Linked DNA regions of Homo sapiens: region 2 is linked to region 1. The links come from fine-mapping of genetic effects on gene expression. Tissue or cell type: lung. Region 1 holds a variant in brackets; the other region holds the start of a gene. All regions are shown on one strand. Distances are from middle to middle.

The links. PIP is the estimated chance that this variant, and not a neighbour inherited with it, causes the effect.
Region 2: SILC1 starts here. The variant in region 1 is the best candidate, but not a certain one, in a credible set for the expression of SILC1 in lung (TOPMed, PIP 0.63).

What each region holds. Positions count from the first base shown.
Region 1 is chr2:5,937,252-5,940,068 of GRCh38, forward strand. All of the region lies in intron 1 of SILC1 (sciatic injury induced lincRNA upregulator of SOX11), which reads left to right. Among named protein-coding and RNA genes, the nearest start is that of SILC1, 6.0 kb to the left of the region's middle. The variant G/A (reference allele first, on the strand shown) is at 1,576.
Region 2 is chr2:5,931,022-5,933,838 of GRCh38, forward strand. SILC1 (sciatic injury induced lincRNA upregulator of SOX11) reads left to right here and starts at 1,666. Exons shown (of 2, transcript NR_026832.1): 1 at 1,666-1,900.

The DNA.
Region 1 (2,817 bases):
GGGAGAGAGAGCATCGCGAGCCAGGGTGAGCTGGTTCAAAGGTCCTGGGTTAGGTGGTGCAGGGCTTGTTTGAGGAACAGAAGGAAGGCCAGCCTGTGTGGCCCATGGCTGAGCCTAAGAGGAGGGTGTGGAGTCAGCCTAGACTGAGGCCAGGGACAGGCAGGGCCAGGTAAGGGCTTGGTATTTCTTTCAAAGTGTTCCGGGAAGCTCTGGGGAGTTTTCCAGCTGGGTAGTGCCATGCTCTCGTTTCTACTTGGGAAGATCACACTGGCTTCTCTGAAAGTGCAGATTTTATGGAGCCAGGAATGGCAGCAGTGAGACTGATGAGGAGGTTATCGTCAAGGTTCAGGCAGAACACCCTGGTGCCTTATACTGGCTTGGAAAAATCAGCTGGGAGGGGCTGCTTGGAGATCAGGCCACAGGTCACAGCGGAACTGAATGGGCCTGGTGTTGGGGTGGTGAGTGGTGGCCTGTTTAGGGAAAGCGGAAAATTAAAGAGAAGCCTTACAATTTTTTAAACATATGAGAATTTAACACCCAATCTGTTTTTCCTTCATTTTTTACTTCATTCAGGAGGAAAAGTAGACAAGAGGGAGAAATTGAGATTCAAATAATCCAACACTCAGGCAGATTGCCTGCTAGCATGCTTATCTCTCATCAGCACAGTGAGGGAGGGGCCTGTGTCACTTTACAGATGAGGCAGAGGGTCCCGCAACTCCTTAAGGGTGGAACTAGGATTGGAAACCACTCCTCCTGGCTCCTCTTTTCCTGCCAAGAGCGCTGCACCAGCTCTGGAGGAAGCCTCAGGAGAGGTTACACAAGTCTCAGCTGCCTGTGGTATTTGAGTGGCCATGGAGGATGGAATTTATGCTGCTGGAATAACTAGAGCCACTGCCCCTCATCTGCAGAGAAGACACACTATCTTGCAATTGCAGAACTCCTGTGCCTCGCTTTCGAAATTGGTCATAAGCTGGAGGCTGATGTTATCTTTCCTCACCCTTCAGACCCAAGTTCCCCAACTCCTCTCACCGCCCCCAACCACCGCTTTAATGACCGGTAAACAAGCAGCTAAATGCACCATGCACTGAGGGGCTCCAGCGAGGGGAGGAGGTGACTCTTCTGAAGAAGGGCTCCACCTGAGTTACTGAGTCAGCGAAAAGGCACCTTTATCCAGGCCTAGAGCAAAACGCAATCAGCCTTCACAGGACTGGTTTCCCAGCCATGAGCTTGGGGGACAGGGCTGGCTGCAACGGGGGCTGCCAAGGGCCCAGGTTCTGTGCTGGAAACAAGAGCACTCTGGTGGACTCGGAAATACAGCGCTGAGGTGGGTGGGCTTTAGTCGGAGCCACCTCCCCGACATTCCTGCCCCAGGCTTCTCTCCCAGGCTTTCCTTCCTGGCCCTGCCATTCTGCATTCCTTACCAACCTGCTGTATTCCCACTCTCGGCTGCCAGGAAGCCTCCTCTTCCCCCGAGCTTTACAGCGTTCATTATTTACCTTCCAGTTTGCACAGTTATATCACTGGAGTTTAAGCACACTTTCTATGTGCAGAACAAACATTCGCACATGCCACAAC[G/A]TACAGTGGGCTGTTTTGTGCCACGTGATGTGCTACTGTATGCAAATTAAAGACGAAGTTAACATTCCCTGTTGCTGGCTTTTCCAAGTGTGTGGGTATCCATTATAGACTTCAATTCTTTGTAAATATTTCAAAGGAAGAAACTCAAAGAGATGATATGAAGGTTGTGAAATTCCCCATCATAAAATCAGAAACTGATTAAACCTGGAACATGCAAAGCCAATATTGATTTCAGCAGCAAAACCAAAATCAGGACAAGCAGACAATATTTTCATAATTAAAAAAGAAAATGAGCTCATGTGAAGAGATGTTATCATCACTCGTAACTTGAAGATGCTTTTGGATACACTGCAATAATTCAGCTAACGTTAACATAAAAATGAAAGAAATTTTTCCACATCTGTATTATTAGCAAATGAATTAGGCAATTAATAATTTGTTTGCTTTAAAATGTCATTTTCATAAACACAATTTAAGCATTATATATTTATGACAATATCTTTCATTTTAAAGTTATTTTTACTTAGTGTTTATTGTATGTTAATTCGCTCTCTTTCTGTTCCTTTTTTATTGTCAAAAGTCCATATTATGTAGAGATAATTTTTGCTAGCTATTGTAATATATAATCTTGTTAGAATATATTCGTCCATAATAACAAATTATACATTTATCATAGTATGTGTTTTACAAAAAAATCTCCTTTAATGTAACCCTATTACAGAAAAAAAAATTCAGTGTTTATTATTTTGGTCCATTTTTATTTTTGTTTTTCAAAAAGTGCTTTCACAAATACAGAATAACTAATCTACTCATACTCTAAAATAAGGACTCTAGTACGGATAACTGCAGAAGCATAGATCGAAAAATCACTTATATTGCCTGAGGGAGATGGTTAGGAAACAGTACTGAGATAAGATATAATTTAAAATGGGTTTTGAAGAATGCATAGGAGTTCATCAGGCTGTAAAGGAAGAGAAGGACATATCATAGTGTACAGCCTACAGAAGCAAAAATCTAAATAGAGAAGTATATAGTATACAGTGTCAGAACAGTAGGAGCTAGAAGTAAAAAATACGAAATCTGTGCAGTGCAACAAAAGCTATAACCCCCAAAAAAGGCTGCACGTTAATAAACACAAAAGGAGGCCGGGTGAGGTGGCTTGTTCATGCCTGTAATCCGTGCACTTTGGGAGGCCAAGGCGGGAGGATCACTTGAGGTCAGGAGTTTGAGACCAGCCTGACC
Region 2 (2,817 bases), 6.2 kb before region 1:
TAAAGTCTCTTTTCAGTTTCTACTTTCTGTTTGCATTCGCCTTTATTTTATTTAATTTTATTTTTAGTTCCACAGGTTTTTGGGAAACAGGTGGTGTTTGGTTACATGAGTAAGTTCTTCAGTGGTGATTTGTGAGATTTTGGTGCACCCACCACCTGAGCAGTATACATTTGAATCCCCCTTTAGCTTGGGCAATTGACATGATGAATTACTTTGAGTTAGACTTCCTGGTTCCTGGATTTAACACTAACCACATCTATAGCTTTGGGCAAAGTATGTACATTTTATGCATTGGAATCACCTTGTTTTATAATTGAGAGTATTTTAAATTGTTATTAAAAGGGAATACACTTTACATAGTGCCCTGAAACATGTAGATGATATAGAAAAAAATGTTTTAGAGAGTACTCTGGCATACAGTAAGTGTTCAATAAATTTTTTTTTCCCTAAGCCAAAAATCTGTCTTCTAACACAGAGATGTGGCCTTATCTTTGAAAGCATTAGCAGGACCCTGTTACATGAAGACTATGACTCCTACACAAATATAGTAAGTACTGCATATCCAGTACTGGCCAACTAGTAAGTTAGTAAGATAGTTGTGGTAGAATTAGGACCATTGAATAGAGTAATAATAACAGTTAACATTTATTGTGCAAAACCATAGATGAAGCAATGTTCCAGCTGGTTTTGCATAAATTAGCTCATTTAATTCTTAACAGCGACGCATCAGCTCATGTAACAGCAAATGTTCTCCCATCTTGTAATCGGGGATACTGAGGTGTCTACTCTGTAGAAAATTTGTCCGGGTCACAGAGCTAAGAAGGGGCAGTGAGGATTAGAAGCCTGTGAGTCTTCAGTGGTTCTAATGGCTGTATTATACTTCCTCTAAAAACCACAGGTATATGTGTTTTGGCTTAAAAATATATATTAGAATGGTGATGCTGGGAAGGACTTTGGCAATCAACCAACCTAACTGCTTGAAAGCCGGGGAGCTACTCACGTCCAGGCACCAAGTAACTTGCACAAATCTTTAAAGTTAATTTCGTGTTATTTCTGGAACTGGAACCCAGGTCTCCAGGTCTCCTTAGTCTCAGTTCTATGCTCTTATGTGTCTCTTGCATTCTTCCAACGACATGATTAATATTCCAATGTGCATTATTAATTTCCTACATGGTTACTTTTTTTTGTATCCATGTCTCCCCAGTCAACTATATCCTTTCCATATGAAGTCTTAAAGTCATATAAATTAAATGAGAACAATGTGTTATACAGGAATAAGGGAATAGTTGCTAGATTTTTTTTTTTTAAAATGATTTCAATCGATAGGTATTTACGGAAAAACACTAGACTCTTTATAAATATCTTTATGCTTAAATATATTTTAATTGGCAGCACTAATAAAAGAGAAGGACTTCAACAGAAGCCTTGGGATTAATAATTACTTTGCTAAAAATGATGAATTCTTGGCTGGCATGTTTACAGGGGTTGGGCTGTGAGTCCCTGAACGGCTGGAACCCTGGCAGAGAGGAGCCCGGAGTGTGGGAAGAGGGGCATCACAGAGAGATGCATCCTACAGAGACTGGAGGACTCCGAGCTTGGGGAAGAGACAGTTAAACCTTCCCCGTGAGAGCGAGTTATATCACGCAGCGCCAGTGCCAGGTCAGCAGTCTGGCTGGAGCTGGACCGGCTGGTGGCGCCAGGCAGTGCCAAGCACCCCTGGCAGCCCTGCAGAGGGTTCTCAAATCCAGATTTCATTCTGCAGTCCCGGCAGTGTTTTGACGACTGCCTCACTAAAGGAAGCTAAAAGCTGTGCTGATGCCTCCCAGACGAGCCTCGTTGGAAGCACAGAACCTTCACGGCTCGGAGCCGCTGACACCGTGACAAAGGGAGCCCTGCTCAGGTGAGACAAGGCTCGGGGGTTCAGATGCTGGTCGTCTGGTACAGGTCTCTGCCGTGTGCATGAGAACAAGTCCGTCTGCCAGGCTGGACGCTGCTATCAGACAGATTGATTTGCCGAGTGTCTTTCAGCATTTCCCTAATTCCTTTTTGAAAAGCAAGAGCTAGGCTGATCATGCACCTGGGTCATAAAGCCCACTCTAAAATCAGGGAGATGGCTTTAGAGAGGATCCAGCCAAGGAGAAAACTAGGTCTGACTCTCGGATGTGTCAGCAACTGCCCCGAGTCTGCTCAGTAGGTCCCCAGAGGTGATTCCTCTCCATAGTCTGTGAACTCATCATGGAATGCTGGCAATGGACTATTCCACGGGGTCTGGAGTGCTGAGTTCTAGTTCAGAACCTGTCCTAGCGGCACCAGGAAGCCCTGTGGTGTTGGGCAAATCACATAACCTCTTGGTGTTTCTGTTCTTTATTGAAAAAGATGGTTATGTATTTGCCATGACAGGTTCAAACTCCTTAGGGGTAAAATTGTGCCCTATTTACCTTTGTTTGCTGAGTCCTTGGCACAAGGCCTGGTGTTTGACACACCTAAAAATTACCCATGGACTCTGTGCTTTGGGACAGAAAAGGTGATGACAAGATGCAGGTGTAAACTTGGAAAGGCCATGAGATCTAGGTTATAGTCTCAGTGAAGTCAGCTACCCATTCAGAGCCCTGTAAAATGAATACAGCCATGTTTTGTGTTGTGTGATGACATCAGTGCAGATGTGAGCCAGACTTAGGCTCATGGTGGGCACTTCAGCAGGTGCTAGCCCTGGTGGGCTTAGCTTTGTGTATGTCAGACCCCAGTGACAGGTCTAAGGGTTGGAGAGGAGACCGGGAGTGATGTCAGGCTCTGGGATGAGGGCGTATTTGGAACAGT